Regions from separate parts of the Homo sapiens genome. Here regions 1 and 3 are each linked to region 2. The links come from fine-mapping of genetic effects on gene expression. A gene starts in region 2. Each other region holds a variant in brackets. All regions are shown on one strand. Distances are between the middles of the regions. Region 1 holds the start of AOC1 (amine oxidase copper containing 1). Region 2 holds the start of TMEM176A (transmembrane protein 176A). Region 3 overlaps LOC105375567 (a long non-coding RNA gene).

Region 1 (6,416 bases), 50 kb before region 2:
GGGAGCAGGTGAGGCAGGGGCTGCAGGCGGAACCCAGAGCCAGCAGGAAGGATATGAGGTGAGTTCTTGTGTTCTCCTATTAAATATTGGCCAGGCCTCTTTTTTTTCTTCTTTAAATAGACTATTTTTTCTTTTTCCTGAGACAGTCTTGCTCTGTAGCCCAGGCTGGAGTGCAGTGATGCGATCTTGGCTCACTGCTACCTCTGCCTCCCAGGTTCAAGCAATTCTCCTGCCTCAGCCTCTGGAATAGTTGGGATTACAGGTGTGCACCACCATGCCCGGCTAATTTTTTGTTTTTAGTAGAGATGGTGTTTCACCGTGTTGGTCAGGCTGGTCTTGAATTCCTGACCTCAAGTGGTCCACCTGCCTCAGCCTCCCAAAGTGCTGGGATTACAGGCATGAGCCACCAGGCCTGGCCCCAAATAGACTTCTTATTAGACTTAAATAAATAAATAAATAAATATATATATATATATATATATATATATATATATATAGTCAGGATCTCACTATGTTGCCCAGGCTGGTCTTGAACTCCTGGGCTCAAGTGATCCTCCTGCGTTGGCCTCCCAAAGTGCTGGGATTATAGTAGACTTTTTTTTTAATAGACTTTTAAAAATAGACTTTAATAGATTTCTTAATAGACTTTATAAAGTCTGTTAAAAGTCTTTAAAAAGTCTATTAAAAGTCTTTTAACAAACTTTATAAAGTCTATTAAAGTCTTTTAAATAGGAGTCTTTTAAAGAGGAATTTTAGGTTCATAGCAAAATTGAGCGAAAGGTACTGAGAGTTTCTGTATACTCACAGCCCCTACACACGCAGCCTCCCCACTATCAATATCCACACCAGAGCCATACATTTGTGGCTGATGAACCTGCACATCACTCTCACCCAGAGCCCACAGTTTACATCAGGACTCACTCTTGCTGCTGCATATTCTATGGGTTGGACAAACGGACAATGACATGGATCCACCATTAGAATATCACACAGAATAGTTCCACCTCCCCCAAAATCTTCTGTGCTCCACCTCTTCCTCCGAAACCCTAGCAATCACTGCTCTTTTTATTGTCTCCATAGTTTTGCCTTTTCCAGAACGTCCTGTATTTGGAATCTTACAGTCTGCAGCCTTTTCAGATTGGCTTCTTTTGCTTGGCAGTGTGCATTTAGGGTACCTCCATGTCCTTTCACGGCTGGGTCTCCTTTTTTACAACCTCTTATACCCACGTTTCTTTTTGCTTTTCCAGGAAGGAGAAAGATGTGGAAGAGACCTTTGCTTTCCCCAGGACAAACCTCTGTCCCCATGTGCAGTGGCAGTGGGGGTGGTGGCTGGTGAGACCTCCAGGCAGGAACAGGAAGCAAGCCCTCTCCCTGCTCACCCTCCTCTCTGAGCTTTCCCCACTCCACCCTGGCCGGCTGTTGCCTGCCACCAAGCACCCGGGCACCTTCTGTGATGTGCTGGGCTCCCGCCCTCACTTCCTGGCCCTCCTCCCTCTGTGTCCTGTTTCTTCTGCCCCTCACTCTGTGCCCTCCTTCCACTGCTTTTCTGTCCTCCAGGTCAGCCCCTTCTTGACTCTCCCGAATACCCATCAGAACGCACCTGTGTGCTCTGCTCCCAGTTCGCTCTGCTTCCAGCCTTTGCCCTTAAGCTGATCTCTGACTCCTTCTTGAAGTCAATCAGACCCCGCCCTGCAGGGAGGGACAAGGTGAGGCCTGAGCTGGCCTAGGAGGGGCCTATGGCTTGGGAGGTGCCTCTGTGGGCAGCTACAGTGGCGAGAGTGGGTTTGAGGAAGCTGGCTGTGCAGCACACTTGTCCTGAGTCTGTTTCCAGACAAGTGCCGCCTTCCACAAGAATTTGCCTTGGCTTCTCTGTGACGAGCCATGCAATGCCACGATCTGTTAATTTAGGTGGCATATTTTAGAGGCAGAGATAAGGACAAGGGGCCATTTCCTAGCCGGTAGTCTTACCTGAAGCTGACAGATGGACCAGGGCAGGGGCTGATAGAGGCTGGCACCCACAGCAAAACAGAGAATTCAACCGCTCCTAGAACAAGACACCAGAGGCAGAACCGTTTGGGAGGAGCAGCCACTCAAGACGAGTTGCAAACTTTGGCGGCTTTTTAACGATCTTTGAGACCCTGACCAGATTCAGAAAGGAGGAAGGACTTGGCTGGGAGAAAGCTGGCCAGGGTAGCTAAGGCTATGGCACAGAGCGGAGAGGGGAGAGGACACTGGGGCAGGTAGTGCCCATGCAGTGGGCGGACAGTGCTAACGCCCACTTAGTCAGGTTGAGAAGGGCGAACGTGGTGACCGGGGTAACTCCTAGTTGGAAAGGAAAGAATAGAGTCAGGAAAAGTTCGTGGCTCAGGAGTGCCAAGGGGTCATCATCCCCCATTACCAAGGTTTGGTTGCTCAGGGATTGCACACCGCTTTGTGGTTATAGGGGTTTTGTATTTCTCATCATCATCCTTCCTGCTGCCCGCAATGCAAGCCATTTCAGTGTGCACTGGCAGCTAGATGAAGGAAGGTGAACACACTTAGTCAACTTGAAGCTTGCTTGCAATTCCAGAAGGTCTTTGGTGTTTCTGAGGAAGGGGATTTGCCTTCCATGTTAAAATGATGATTGATACAAAGACAATGAATGCTAA[C/T]GTCTTTCACCCTCAGTGTTCAAGAGGACTGTGAGTTATGTATTCTCAGTTATGGGCTCACCAACTCCGCAGAGAATTGGGGGGATTTGGATTAGAAGAGAGTTTCAGGAACAACCTGATTTTGAGGACTACAATCTGTTTCCATTCCACAAAGGAAACTGCGACAAAGTTAATGGAGTGAGGATGGATCGAGAAAAGAGACTTGCAAAGATTTAAAGGGAAAGGGGCCACATGCACATGATGGAGTTAGACCCTTTCACACACGGAAACGGACTCGAAAGGGACCAAAGACATACATGTAAGAGCTAAAACTGTAAAACTCTTAAAAAGAAAACATAGGAGTAAATCTGCTTGACTTTACATCTAATTCTTGGATGTGACCTCAAAGCACAAATAACCAAAGAAAAAAAAATAGATAAATTGACATCATCAGTATTAAAAGACTTTTATGCTTCAAAGGACACCCACAGGAAAATGAAAAGACAAAGCATAGAATGGGAGAAAATATTCACAGATTATATATCTGATAAGAAAATTATATCTAGAATGTAAGAAGAACTCTTCCAATTCCATAATAAGAGGCAAATAATCCAATTAAAAATGAGCCAAAGATCTGAATAGATATTCCCCTCACGAAGATACACAAATGGCCAATATGCACATGGAAAGCTGTTCAATGTCATTAGTCATCAGGGGATGCAAATCAAAACCACCAGGAGATACCACTTTATATCCACTAGGATGGCTAGAATTCAAAAGCAAGGTAATAACAGGTGGGGCCAGGAGGCAGAGAAACTGGAAGCCTCACAGGCAGTTCATGGTGAGATGACGCAGCCACTTCGGAAAACTGTCTGGCTGTTCCTCAAATGACTTAACGTTGTTATCATATAACCCAGCAATCCCACTCCTGGGTATATGCTCAAGAGAAAGGAAAGCCTATGTCCATGGGGAAACCTGTACCAGAGTGTTTACTGCAGTGTTATTCACAATAGCCAAACAGTGGAGACGACTCATATGTCTCTGCATTGATAAATGAGTCAACAAAATGTGGTCTATCCACTCAATGGAACATCATTCAGTCATAAAAAGGAAGGAATCACTGTTACATGACACAATGTGGATGAACCTTAAAACCACTACGGCAAATGAAAGAAGCCAGTCACAAAAGACCACATTATTCCATTTATATGAAACGTGTGGGGTAGGTAAATCTCTCAAGCAGATGAGAAGCACATTAGTGGTTGCTTAGGGCTGGGGTGCGATGGAGGGATGGGGTGAGAGCTAATGCTTATGGGGTTTCTTTTTGAGGTGATTAAAAAGTTCTAAAATTGAAGGTGATGGCTGCATGTACCTGTGAATGTACTAAAATGCATTGAATTATACACTTTAAATGGGTGAATTGTAAGGTGTGTCTCAATAAAGCTGTTTTCAAAAAGTGACAGGACTAATATCTAGAATACACAAGGAGCTCTTGCAAATCGGTCAGAAAGAGGCAGCAGTCCCCATGGAAACCTGGTAAAGAATCCCAAGGGTAACTTGCAGAAGAGGCACCCCAAAGGGCTAAAGAGCACATGGAAAGATGCTCAAATGTAGTGGTTACTAGAAAAATGCAAAGCATTCAACAACGAGATATAATTTTTCATGGGAAAGCTGGATGATGCCAAGTGTTGACAGAGATGTGGGGAAACGGGGACCTTATGTGTGGTTGTGGGAAGGGGTTATTGATGGCACAGCCATTCTGGAGGGCACTTTGCAGGGTGTGGGCAAATGAGAGAATTGCATGCTCTCCAGACTCAGGAACTCTGTCTCTTGGAATATATGTCAAAGAGGTTCTCACCCAGGCCTAGAGGTGGGATGCAGACACAAGTGGCTGTGAGGCTGGGGAGCTGGAGGCCATCGGGGTGCCACCCCCAGGAGAGTGGTCACTGCACACCATGGGGTGTTGTGCAGTTGGCGGGTGCAAAGGCATGGATGTCCACACAGCCACTCCTGAGAAGGGATCTCAGGATCATGGAAGACGCAGGATGAGTGATAGCACGATGCCATTACACAACAGGAAACACGTACACACCAAGCCACCCGCTTTCAAGAGTGGATACACATTAGAATGGATGTGAGGGCGGGGGTGGGAGTGGGAATACATACATACACACGTGAGAAAGACAAGAGAGAGGACTTGTATGGGCCAGTGATGACGACATCCATGCACTGAGGTAGAATTAATTCAGTTCTGCAATGGACGTCCATAAATAAATAAAAGAAAGGCCTGGGAGACAGACTGAGTGACTACAGGTCCTCACACCAGGGTAGATGTGGCTGAGGACAGGAACCACCACAGGTCCCGCACCTGGAGGATGCAGTGAGGGCAGGGAGGAACACTGCGTGTAGGCAGGGAGCTGAAGCACACCAGAAAGAATTGCATTTTTTATGTAACGGGGCCCATAACATGTACATAGAAGGATTAATATTACAAGGTGGCACAGAGTAAGTGCAACACATTGATGCCCAAGGGCCTGTCCTGCAAGGGCTTGGAAGGAGATTCCCCTCAAGACTGCAAGCCCCCAAGTCCTGGGACTCTATCCCCTCTGCAGTAGCCTCCATGGCTGCTGTCACAGAGGACCACACACAGGGGCTTAAAGTAACAGAAATGGGTTGTCTCACAGTTCTGGAGGCCTAAAGTGTGAAATCAAGGTGTAGGCAGGGCCATGCTCCCTTTGGAGGCTCAAGAAGAGGGTCCTTCCTCTCCTCTTCCAGCTTCTGTGTTGCCAGCAATCCTTGGTGTCCCTCAGTGCCTTGGCTTGTGGCCATGTCACTCCAATCTCTGTCCTCACATGGCGTCCTCCTTGTCTCAGTACCTCTATTTTCAAGAACACCAGTGATTGTATTGAGGGCCTACCCTACTCCAGTATGACATCATCCTAACTAATTCATCTGCAACGACCCTATTTCCAAATAAGACCATATTCTGAGGTTCCAGGGAGGACATGAATTTTTAGGGGGATGCTATGCAACCCAGCACACCTTCTTTACCTGCCTCATTGCAGAGAGCATGGTCCTTGGCCAGTGAGTGAATTCCAAGCCCTGTGCCCTGGGGGGCTGCTGCCCCGAGGATCCACAAGGTAGAGCCTGTGTGGGGTTTTGCGATACACGAGGGACTTAGGAGGAAGAGGACACACTGGGCAGGGGCGGGGGTGGGAGTGGGAGTGTGAGTGGGGGTAGGAGCAGAGTCCTGAACTGAGATGTGGTGTGTTTCCCAACATGGGAAAAGGTCAGGGCTGATGCGGGGAGTGGGGTGCGGTTTGTGTCGCTGTGCTGAGGAAGGGCAGGTGGTGTGTCTGGAAGGAGGAGGTAGAGTGAGGAACCTCCCTATGCGCTTCTAGAGAAGTGTGGGGGTGAAGAGGGGCTTGTGGGAATCCTATAGAGACAGAGGAGATAGAGAAGCCCTCTAGAGAGGCACTGGGAAAGCTGAGGCGAACAGAATCCTTGTGCAGAAAAGCTGGTAAGTCTGTTGTTATATACATATATATATTTGTAGAGACGGGGTCATGCTGTGTTGCCCACGCTGGTCTTGAACTCCTGGCCTCAAGTGATCCTCCTGCCTTGGCCTCCCAGAGTGCCGGGATTACAGGCATGAGTGACCATGTCTGGCCAAGGCCATTGTTTCTGCTCATGTTTGTGTGCACTGTGGCTGGGGAACTTGAGATGTCACACTTGAAATTTGGGGTCTGTTGCCTTGCCACCTCTCTTCCTGCTCCCTGGCTGGGGCTG
Region 2 (6,416 bases):
TTGGTGACAATACGCAAGCTTGGTGCAGAATAGGTAACACCTATTTCTGGTGGAGAACCTGACTCTTGCCCCTGGCCTGGCCTGGCCATCCCTGCCCCACCTGCTGCTGCCCCTTCCCCTTGGCCACCTACCTTCAGCATGTCCATGAAGGAGGTACATAGGTGTAGCCTTCTGACTTCTTCTGGACTCTGAGTGGGGGCTGGAGTGTTCCAGTCACTCGAGCTGGAGATGCGGCAGGCACTGTTGTAATAAGAGTAGCCATATCGGAAATCTTCATTCCAAAGTTTGAGGGCAGCGATGGCTGTGGAGAAAGCTGCCAGCGTTAGCAGAGTCCTCAGCAGGGCCTGGGGAGGGAGGAGGCAGAGAGAAATCTTTGTGTTTCAGTCTCTCTCAGAGTCCAGTCGGGGGAAAAAAGGGCAAGGCCCAGAGAAGCCTGCAACAGGGCAGGAGATTGGGGTGACCTCCAGCCTGAACCTGGTCCCCTCCCATGCCCTTCCCTGAACTTACCCAGTATGTACCACCCCGTTTCTCGTAAATGAAGGCAGCAGCTCCAGCCAGCACAGCCTGGGGAGAGATTGAGCCAGGAGCAGGCTTAGTACAGGAAATGCAACTCCTCTCCCACGAGAGAGCCTCCATGCAGGCCCTTCCCCAGCACACAGCTTGGGCGGGAGGTTTCATGCTAAGCTTTATTATCCATGGTAAGATAATTGCTGAGAGGGTGGAGCCTGGATCCAACTCCTGAGGCTGCAAAAGGCCCTGCTTTAGTGACACCTAAGAGCTTGTGGTCAAGCCAGGTGTGAGCCCCTCTTCCCTTCTAAACCTTCCTTTTTAAACAACACCAAGTGCTTTATGAAAGTTCTAGGGATGGTGGGATCCTGTGGATAAAAGTCATGGGGTGCTGGAGAAGATCTCAATGAAGGGTGAGTCTATACAGAGTGGGCACTGTTAGGTCTAGAAGCCTGTCCTAACAGTGCCCAATAATCCACTCAGCTGGGCTTGAAGAACAGGAAATCTAGTATGTCCCAGTGGACAGGTGGACCTGAATCCTGTTTGGCTAATTCTGTAATTAAGCTGGGTATTTTGCCACAGGCTGGGTGAAGGTAATTACTCTCGGCTTCTGTCAGTAAATATGAGTGTTTTAGTGCTATTCTGAGAGTGTAGGTACCATGACCAGCCTACCCAGCTCCTGTGCAAACTGCACACACCCATCTGTTGACAACAATTCCTGGGTTTCCATTGTGTACAGGGCCTGTGGAGGACAATGAGAATAACCAGGGGGTGATGCTTCCTGGGGGACCACATACTATCTGGAACGCTCTGCCTTCCCCATCTCAATGCAAGTATCTGGAGATGAGCAGGTCCTTAGATCCTTAGTTGACATTAACTGTTGAAGGCAGGGAGAGGCAGCCAGCCTGGTGGGAACAGCACTGGGAAGGGTATGGGAGAGCAGACAGTGTGAATAGGACATGCCACCACCGCCCTCAGCTGTTTGCTCATCTGAACAGGCAGGGAATGGTCCTAGATAATCAGATCTCTCCGACTGCCAGCATTCTGTGGCGCCATGTTGGAGGAAGGCAATCAGGAGAGCAATGCCCCACCCCTCTCACAGGCAGTCAAGCACTGTCCTGCTCTACTCACCACAGCCCCTGTCCAGATGGCAGCTCCCGAGGTGACGAGGAGGGTGTAGTCGCGGATGTAGAAAAATCCTCCTAGGACTGCACTCAAGATCCCCAGCACGATCTGCATCACCTGAAAGACAAAGGACCCAAGATCCCGGCTCCTAGGTGGACCTGCCACTGCAGGGATTAACCGCTAAAACCCCAAAAAGAGAGGGAGAGGTAGAGAGAGAGAGAAAGAAAGAAGAGAAGAGAAGAGAAGAGAAGAGAAAAGGAGAAGAAAGAGGAGGAGAAGGAGAAAGAAGAAGAGGCAGGAGGAGGAGAAAAGAGAAGGGAAAGGAAGGAGAGGAGAGCCGGCCCATCCTGAGTTTGGCCCAGAGGAAAGGATGGACTCAGGGCTCCACTGATTGGGACTCTGCATGGTCAGTGGCTCCTCCACACCCCTTCAGCCCAGAGCCTCCCCTCCCCAGGCTCTTACTGAGAAGGCCAGAGAATCACATCGCTAAGTAAGAAGACATAACTGGCTCGGTGTCCTGTTCAGAGGGAGGCTGGCAGAGAGTGCTGCTGCGGCTGGAGGTGGGGAGTTCCTCCCGCCGCCCGACGAGGCAGGCCGTCACACTCACCCACGAGGCCACCAGCAGCCGGCTGCTGCCCCTGGCCTGGGTGGCCCGGGGCCGCAGCGCAGAGCAGCAGGTGAGCAGGAGCTTGGCCAGGGCAGACTCCTGGTGGATGTGCACATCGATGTGGGTGTGCTGTGGGGCCTCCGGGGCCATCTCATCACTGTCGGCTGTTCCCATTGTCAGGGACACAGTCTATGAGGAAGGGAGCACCAGAGAGGAACGGCTGTCAGAAGATTTTCGCAGATTTCATTGGAGTTGGGGAGGTCAGGGGCCAGTGGTGGCTCAAAGTCACCCAATGAATGGCTGTCCTGGTCACAGGGCCGCACCCCTGGCCCCTCACGAGGGGAATGTGTGTAGCAGAGGGGGTGCTGACCATGCTGGAACTGCGGCGACTACAGAGCCTGCGGGAACCTCCCCTTTCGCCCAAGATCTGCTCTGTCCCCCTCATCCTCCTCCCAGGGCCCTGGCGTCTGGGTCAAGCAGCGCCCCACACCTCGACCCCTCACCCCCTCCTCCCGGGCTCTTCCTGCGGCCTCCCCTCCACAGTCCGCAGGCTCTGGGACAGGACCGAGTCCTTGGCTGCCTGTGGAGCTCCTGTGCCAGCAGCTGCGCCCCGGCTGCGCTCCGGATACCCCCATCCCCGCCACCGCCGACCTCCCGCTCCACCGACTGCTGCTCACGCCCGACGGGTTCACGCCGCCCCTGCCCCGTGAAGGACCGCGCTGCGGTGCGGAGGTAGGTCAAAAGCCGGGGCCGCACCTGGCTTCCTCTGCAGTCCCCTTCCTGGAGTGTCATCCCTGGGTGGGGGTCCCTCCTACGCTCCTCCAACTGTGCGGAGGCAGCTCGGGGTGCGTGCGGAAGGAGGCCCGGGGGCCGCCGGGAGTGGGGTGCCGCCTCACCTGCGCTCCTCGGGACCTGCGAGCGGGCGGCGGGAGGGCTGGGGCGCTGGCTGGAGAAGTGGGTTGAGAGTTGGAGGGGGAGGCGGGGAGGGGAGGCGGGGGTGGGGCTGAACTTCAGCCCCTCGGGTTCATGACAGGCTGCAGGGCCTGGGGTCCGTCTGGGGTTCTCCTGCTGCGCGAGGGTCACTGGGCTCTGGGGAGCTGGGAGGGTCCGCGGGCGGACGGCCCTGGGAAAGCCCGTGGGGTCGTTCTCGCCTCCAGCCCCGCCCGGCCAGGGCCGGCGTGCAAGTGTGCGCGAGTGGGAGCGCAGGGGGCGCGCGGGGGCTCGGTCTTCTCCCGCCCGGTCCGCTCCTCCGGGCGGAACCCCCTTTGCCGGGCCCCCGGGCCGCAGCTGGTTTCGGGAAACCGCGCAGCCTGGGCGGGGCCGCAGCCCCCACCCGTGCATCTGCCGTCTCCGCCCTCCCGTCGCTCCCCTGCTCGGGGTCAGCTAGTGTCCGCTCTGCTCGGCCGCGGGCTCCCGGAGGACTGCAGGTGAGGCAGGGCCTCCGCGGCCCGGGAGACCCTCTTGCCGCAGGACCCTCTGTCACGAGGAGTCCCCAGGGCCATGCCCCCACCCCGTCCTGTCCACAGGACGTCTTTCTTCCTCCAACCTGGTTTCCAGGAGGACTCACGTAGGAGGGAGGGACAGCTGGGTGCAGGTGTTTCTCCCCAGAAAAACGGCTGGAGAGCGGGAGGAGAGGCCTGGGGCTGGCGCGTCCCGTCCACCTTCTGCCGCCTGCACGCCTGGACCCTGGCTGGAGCCCTACGGTGGGGTGGCTCCTGGGACGGGGCCAGGGAGCGGCGGGGCTGCCGGACGCTTTCCCCAGCCCCGGGGCACGGGAAGAGCTGGACAGAGGAAAGTGTTCGGGGCAGCCGGGAAGAGCCCACCACCTACCAGGCGTCGGGCGGCCCGCAGGGGAATCTCCGTGGTGCCGGCCTGGTTCAGATCCGACTCTTCAGGCGGGGGCGAGGCAGATCTAGGGGTTGGCGTGGGGCGGGGGAAGCGGTGGTCCTGGGGGCCCGGAGGTAGCTGGAACCCGAGGTGCCCTCAGGGCGAGGCCTGGGCCGTCAAGGGAAGGTCTGGCTGGAATCTGGGGCTGGGCTGGAAGCAGTCTGAAGCTCCTTTGTACGTGTGCGGAATTGTCTAACTCCTGTCCTTTCTAACCCCAAGGAGGCCAGGTGGGTGAAAGAGTGAAACTGCTTTGAAAAGTAGGTAGAGTACGAATGGGAGGTGTTATTAGAATTGTTAATAATATTTGATTTAAACTGTGATACTTAGCCAGGATGTCCATTAGAATTGCCTATGCAGGATTTATTTTAGAGCCAGGCAAGCTGATTCTAAAGTGCATGTGAAGAAGTAGTCTAGCAAAAATGGCCATGACAATTCTGAAAGAAAAACCACACGAGGGGATCATGAAACAGCCCAATTAGCATTAAGCTCCATGTTAAAATTGTGGTAATGATGCCTAGCCCATGAGACATGCCAATGGGCAGAATATAAGGACTAGAATAGGCCTACATTCCTAGGGGAACTTCATTTCTGCTCAGGAGAGAATTTTAAATCACTGAGAAAAAGAGGATGTATTTTCCGCAAATGGAACGTATCTTTCAGAAGTTAAACATCTGAATGACAGCAACAGAACTTGGATCCGTGTCTCCCAACGGCGAAGGTTGGTCACCCAGCTCCCAAATTCCAGATGGTCGGCATTTAAAAGTGAAAACTGAAAGCATAAAGGCACTTAGAAGAAAATGTGGAAGATTATTTTATAATCTCGAAACGGGGAAGTCCTTTAAAAGTGTAAGAGCTAGACACCATAAATAGAATGAAATAGAACATGGATTGTATGAATATACAAGCAAGGTCAAAAAATAAACTTCAAATTGTAAAGAAACATTTGAAACTCATATCACAAACGGTAATTTTGTGAATAGATAAAGAACTTCCATAGAAAAAAGCAAAACAAAACAAAACGAAACAAGGACATAGGATGTGAACGGAGAGCTCACAAAAGAAGAAATAAAAATGGCCCTGAACATATGAAAAGACAACCAACCTCACTCATAATAAGAGAACTATGGGCCAGGCGTGGTGGCTCACACCTGTAATTGCAGCACTTTGGGAGGCTGAGGTGGGAGGATTGCTTGAGTCCAGGAGTTTGAGACCACCCTGGGCAACAAAGCAACACCCCATCTCTCTCTCTAAAAAAAGAGAACTGGCCGGGCGCGGTGGCTCACGCCTGTAATCTCAGCACTTTGGGAGGCCGAGGCGGGCGGATCATGAGGTCAGGAGATCGAGACCATCCTGGCTAACACGGTGAAACCCCGTCTCTACTAAAAATACAAAAAATTAGCTGGGCTTGATGGCGGGCGCCTGTAGTTACTCGGGAGGCTGAGGCAGGAGAATGGCGTGAACCCGGGAGGTGGAGCTGGCAGTGAGCCGAGATCGCGCCACCCTAGCCTGGGCGACAGAGCGAGACTCCATCTCAAAAAATGAATAAATAAATAAATACATAATAAAAAAATGAAATAAAAGAAAACCATGGATTAAAAATATATGGAAATCATTACAGAAAGCAGGTCAGTGGTTGCTCATGGCCAGTGGTTGGGGGTATTTTCTGGGGAGGGGCTTTAGGGAATGTATTGCTGTGTAGGAATGTCCTTTATCTTGATTGTAGCTGTAATTGCACAAATGTGTAAATTTGTCAAAACTCGTTGAGATATACATTTAAAATGGGACATTTTTATTACATAAAATTGATTAAAATCAATGCATTTTTCCCCATATAAAAGGAAAAAGATAAAAGAGTTTGCCTCCTGCATGTGAATTGCTACCACCTCCGTGGAGGATAACTGACAATATCTACTAAAATTGCAAATGCGCATTCCTGGTGCCCTGCCAATTCCACATTGTCTGTAATGGAAAAGGATTAGAAATAACCTAAATGTCTGCCAATAGGGAACCACTTAAATAAATTATGAGGAATTCATACTCTCAAAATATATGCAGTTACACAAATGAGTGAAGAAGCTTTTGTGAAAGTTGTCAGAATCATAATCGAGTCACTTGAGTTAAAAAAAAAATCTGAAAATGGAAGGCCCACAAGGCAGGGTTCTCATGCGTAAATAACCTGGGAACAAAAGTCATCACAAAGGACTCTGTAAAATGACAACCTTACACAAAAAAATACTTCTGTGAGGACATCCACCAGCAACTGCCTGTCTAACCCTGGACTTGTGTCACC
Region 3 (5,592 bases), 33 kb before region 2:
TGGTGTTGGCTTAGGAGATTTGTGAGCACTCAGGGTAGAAAGGCCTCTGCCACGGGGCTCCAAAACTTTCCACAGAAGCAGGGTCTTGGCTAGGCTGTGCCTCTGGGTTATTAGGTCAGCTCATCCCACTTAGGTTCCTGTGCCACCAATGTCTCCCTGAGTTTCACTGATCCCTGGGCTTTTCTGTTGCTCTGGGAATGGGCCATGATGCTGCTTCTCCTGGTTTTTCCTGTCTGTGACTGATGTGGGCACAGGATGCCCAGAGGCGTGAACTCCACAACATTCCTGGGTCTCACAAGCATCCAACTGCCTGCTTTGTCCTGAGTCCTTCACTGTGTCCCTGTTCTATAAAGGTTTTGTTTTCTAAGGGAGGCAGCCACAGCCTGGAAGCCCTTCTCCGGATTTCACTGCCTGGGAGGTGCTGACTGAAGGGAGTCATGCAGATCCTAAGGAACCTCAGTGGAGGCCCCGTGGAGCCCCTGCAAAGCCCCCAAAGACCCATGCCCTGGACCAGAGCCATTGTGGGGTGTTCTCCCCGCTGGCTGCATGTTGGAATCACCCAGGCAGTGTTCCTAACTATTGGTGCCCAGAGGTCCCACCTCCGGATTCTGATTTAGATAGGGGGGCCTGGGTTTGTAGGGGGTGGGGTTAAAAGCTCCCCAGTTGATTCCGAGGTGCAGGCAAGACTCAGAGCCATTCATGGAGCAGCTCCATTGATAAAAAAGAACTCAATGCAGGCACTGATGGTGCTCAGAGAAATCTGCTTTGCTTTTTTTTTTTTCATCTTTTTTTTTTTTTTACTTGACATAACTTGTATGTTTTTCTTGGGTGAAACATGATGTTTTGATATACATATACATTGTAGAGTGGTTAAATTTAGCTAATTAACAAATGCATTACTTCATATAAGTTATCGCTCTTGTGGTAAGAGCACTTAATGTCCATTTTCTACATTTTTCAAGAAGAGAATATATTGTCATTAACTATAATCACCTTGCTATACAACAGATCTCTTGAAATTTATTCCTCCTAACTAGCTGTAATTATGTATCCTTTGACCAACATCTCCCCATCTCCCCACTCCTTTCTAACCAGCCTAGCTTCTACTTCTTTGAGTTCAGGTTTTTTTAGATTCCACATGAATCTTGATGAGTGAGATCATGCGGTATTTATCTTTCTGTGCCTGGCTTATTTCACTTACAGAATGTCCTCCAAGTTCATCCTGTTATCACAAATGGCAGATTTCATTCTTTTTTATGGATAAGTGGTATTCCATGTGTATATATACAACTCATTTTTTTAAATCCATTTGTCCTTTGATGGACATTTAGGTTGATACCATATTTTGGTTATTGTGCATAGTGCTGTAATAAACATGGGAGTGCAGATATCTCTTCAACATACTGATTTCAATTCCTTTGAATATATACCCAGTAGTGGGGTTGCTGGATCATATTGTAGTTCTGTTTTTAATTTTTTGAGGAACCTCTATACTGTTTTCCATAATGGCTGTACTAATTTGCATTCCCAGCAACAATATATAAATGTTCCCTTTTCTCCACAGCTTTGATGGCAAGTGTTATCTTTTGTCTTTTTGATAATAGCCATAATAATGAGGTGATATCTCCTTGTGGTTTTTTATTTGCATTTTCCTGATGATTAGTGATGTTGAGCTTTTCTTCATACACCTGTTGGCCATTTGTCTGTCTTCTTTTGCAAAATGTCTACTCAAGTCTTTTGCCAATTTTTCACTGGGTTATTATTATTATTATTATTATTATTATTATTATTTTGCTATTGAGTTGTTTGGTTTCCTTATATATTTTGGATATTAACTGCTTGTCAGATGTATAGTTTGCAAATATTTTCTCCCACTATTTAGGTTGTCTTTTTTGCTCTGTTGGTTGTTTCCTTTGTTGTGCAGAAGCTTTTTAGTAAATTTTTAGAAATTTGATGTAATTTCATTTGGCTCTTTTTGCTTTTGTTATCCATGCTTTTAACGTTTTATAAAAAAATTATTGCCCAGACCAGTGTCGTGGAGTTTTCCCCCTATGTCTTCTTCTAGTAGTTTAATAGTTTTGGGTCTTGGATTTAAGTCTTTAATCTATTTTGAGTTGAACATGGTGAGATATAAGGGGGTAATTTCATTTTTCTGTTTGTGGATATCCAGTTTTTCTAACACCATTCTATTGAAGCAATTGTCCTTTTTCCACTGTGCTATCTTCGCACTGCTGTTGAAAATCAGGTGGCTATGAAGGTGTAGATTTATTTCTGGGCTCTCTATCCTGTTCCATTGGTTTATGCATCTGTTTTTATGCCAGTACCACGCTGTTTTAGTTACTATTGCTTTGTATTATACTTTGAGGTCAGGAAGTTTGATGCCTCTAGCTTTGTTCTTTTTGCTTATTTCAGCTTTTTGGGTTTCTTTTTTGTGTGTGTTTCCATACAAATTCCAGGAATACTTTTGTTATTTCTGCGAAGAATGTCATTGGTGTTGTGATATGCCTTACTTTTAAAAGTTAAACAGCAAATTCTCATTAAGTTCAATTTTTTTTTCATTTTAAAAATACTTGGTTCTAAGGAGCTGAAATTTCCACTCATTACTCTTGTTGATGGAGCAGCCTGGTCAGGATCAAGTATCACCAGCACCTAGTGAGGCGCTGTCATGGGCTGAACTGTGTCCCCCAAAAT[G/T]CATATGTTGAAGTCGTACCCCTAGTACCTCAGAATGTGACTATATTTGGAAATAGGGTCTATAAAGAAGTAATTAAGTTAAGATGAGGTCATTAGATGAGTCTTAATCCAATATGTCTGGTGTCTTTATGAGAAGAGGTAATTGGAACACAAACACACACAGAGGGATGACCATGTGATGAGGAGAACACAGGCAGAACACAGACATCCGTGAGCCTAGGAGAGGTCTCAGAGGGAACCAACCTTGCAGATGCCTTGGGCTCAGGCTTCCAGCGTCCAGAACTGTGATAAATAAATGTGTGCGTTTCAGCCTCCCAGTTGTGGTACTTTGCTATGGCAGCTCTAGCAAACAAATATGGGCACCAACCAAACAACCAACTATCATAGTCACATGGAATCAAGGCTCAGGTGAAAGGACCTGACAGGGATCTAGGAGGAAGGGGAAGGGGGAGCAGGTAGGTCTTCACTTGAATCTCTGCACCTCCCTACCACACTGCCCAGTCCAGTGCCTGGGCTTTGGGTTGTAATTCACCATCTCATTTGCTGCCTTTGCTGCCTCTGAGAGTTGAGCTAAGCAAACACTTAACTAGGCAGGATGAGCAGGTGAAGGATGAGGGTCTACATGACCACCCAGTCTGGACTCTTGGGACCTTCCCAGTTGGCAGGTTCAGGAGTTTTCTTCAATATAGCTTTTCCTTCAGTCCACCTTGGTCACATTGAAGCCTGTAAAAAACTAGTCCTGTGGCTGGGCGTGGTGGCTCATGCCTGTAATCCTAGCACTTTGGGAGACTGAGGCAGGCGGATCACGAGGTCAGGAGTTCCAGACCAGACTGCTAACATGATGAAACCCTGTCTCTACTAAAAATACAAAAATTAGCCGGGCGTGGTGGTGCGTGCCTGTAATCCAGCTACTCAGGAGGCTGAGGCAGGAGAATTACTTGAACCCGGGAGGATGATGTGGCAGTGAGCCAAGATTGAGCCACTGCACTCCGGCCTGGGTGACAGAGCGAGACTCCATTTCAAAAACAAAACAAAACAAACAAACAAACAACTAGGCTTGTTGGACCAAGAAATCTAATTATTGGTGTTTTTCCACTTGTGGGAAAAATGTGCCTAATGCATTTGTATGTCAGTCTACTTATTTGTTTATCTATCTATCACTAGTGAAAAGATCACACAAAAATATTAACAGTGGTTATCTCTGGGGTGTGAAATTATGGGTAATTTTTGTCTTTTTGTTATACTTTTCCATTTTTCCCAGCTTTCTCCAATGGGCATGTATTTATTTTTATAATCATAAAAAAGCAATAAAAAAGTCTATAACCAAAATATAGTGTTCGAGAAGCTCAAGTTCTTGATGAATAGTGTACTCTGAAAAAAGGCATATAATATATGGCAAAGACAAGGAGAAATTCCATCAAAATATTCTTCTTCGTTGTTGCTGGATTGTTAACCTCTTTAGGCTCCAGATTAGCTCAGAATGAGAACATTTAGCAATCTCAAGGTCTATGTTGGAGCCAGTTTCACAGTGAAGCAAAGCCCCTACCCCAGGGCACAGCAAAGTCTTTGTGCTGAGAGGAAAACAATGGCACATATGTCCCAGAGAAAGAGGCAGCTCATAATTCTTTTCCCTGGCAGCCTATTAAAGCTTCTCAGACATTGGACTAAATTCTGTCCTTCCTCCAAGAAGAAGTGGACTTCTGTGTCCTTGAATAAAACTCAAAATAAGTTATGGATATAAGCCAGCAGCTCTTCTCATGGATTGCAGAGCCAAGAGTCACTACTTGTCTGTCCTCCACATTCAGGTCAGTTTTCAGAAAAAGGAGATTTCTCACTCCAACGAGAATGCAAAGAATCCAAGGCGGCCATTGTGTCATTATTTAACAAGTTCCTTCATCCATTTATGCCCCAGTTGAATCAGATGCAGATTCTGTGCCCGGCACTGTGCTAAGTGCTTCACGTGTATATTTTATTCACTCCTCACAATGACCCTGTGAGGGTCATCAGATTACATATGAAGAAGTGAGAACCGGCTGGGCGCGGTGGCTCACGCCTGTAATCCCAGCACTTTGGGAGGCCGAGGCAGGCAGATCAGGAGGTCAGGAGATCAAGACCATCCTGGCTAATATGGTGAAACCCTGTCTCTACTAAAAACACAAAAAAACTAGCCGAGCATGGTGGCGGGCGCCTGTAGTCCCAGCTACTCGGGAGGCTGAGGCAGGAGAATGGCGTGAACCCGGGGGTGGAGCCTGCAGTGAGCCGAGACTGTGCCACTGCACTCCATCCTGGGCAACAGAGTGAGAATCCATCTCAAAAAGAAAAAAAAAAAAAAAAGAAATGAGAACCAAGATCTCAACCCACCCTGGCAGTGCTTTCAGAGCTGCACAGCCCTACCACACTATACTGCCCTTGCTGTGCAGACACAGATATGAAATGCCCTGGCTGTGCCCTGGGGGGCATGAACTAGAGTGAGTAGAGTCAGATGTCCTCAAGTAAGGGTCAAGTAAACAAGTAAGGGTCATAAAAGGGCCAGGTGCAGAGAGCGAGGTATGTACAGGGCATGGAGGAGGGAGTGGTCCAGTCACCCAGGGTGGGGCAGTGGTTTGGGAAATGTTTCCCAGAGCAGGTGGCCTTTGTACTGGGTATAATGAGGCTGACAAGGGTGACTGATTCTTTGTGAGGGGAACAGATGCTAGTGGTGAGGTTATTACAGGCCAAAGGAGCAACCTCAGCAGCAGGTTGGGAAGCACAAAGATTGACCCCCACTCTCAGCATTGGACATATATCATCTAGGCAGAAAGTCAACAAAGAGACATTAGATTTAAACTGCACTATAGACAAAGGGACCTAACAATTTGCAGAACATTCTATCCAACAACTACAGAATATACATTCTTCTCA

The links. PIP is the estimated chance that this variant, and not a neighbour inherited with it, causes the effect.
Region 1: its variant is fine-mapped to the expression of TMEM176A in atrial appendage (GTEx, PIP above 0.99).
Region 3: its variant is fine-mapped to the expression of TMEM176A in left ventricle (GTEx, PIP above 0.99).

Annotation. Positions count from the first base shown.
Region 1 is chr7:150,847,743-150,854,158 of GRCh38, reverse strand. It overlaps AOC1 (amine oxidase copper containing 1), which reads right to left and starts at 1,642. Exons shown (of 5, transcript NM_001091.4): 1 at 1,601-1,642. The region is part of intron 1 of LOC105375567 (a long non-coding RNA gene); the gene reads left to right. RefSeq lists an enhancer at 1,489-2,060. The variant C/T (reference allele first, on the strand shown) is at 2,649.
Region 2 is chr7:150,797,548-150,803,963 of GRCh38, reverse strand. TMEM176A (transmembrane protein 176A) reads right to left here and starts at 3,195. Exons shown (of 7, transcript NM_018487.3): 1 at 3,136-3,195; 2 at 2,240-2,428; 3 at 1,639-1,749; 4 at 508-564; 5 at 132-344. The coding sequence starts at 2,413. TMEM176B (transmembrane protein 176B) reads left to right here and starts at 3,600. Exons shown (of 7, transcript NM_001101312.2): 1 at 3,600-3,666. RefSeq lists enhancers at 2,504-3,203, 3,204-3,903, 3,904-4,603.
Region 3 is chr7:150,830,793-150,836,384 of GRCh38, reverse strand. All of the region lies in intron 2 of LOC105375567 (a long non-coding RNA gene), which reads left to right. It overlaps LOC124901775 (a long non-coding RNA gene), which reads right to left. Exons shown (of 3, transcript XR_007060591.1): 3 at 3,284-3,414. Among named protein-coding and RNA genes, the nearest start is that of AOC1, 19 kb to the left of the region's middle. The variant G/T (reference allele first, on the strand shown) is at 2,692.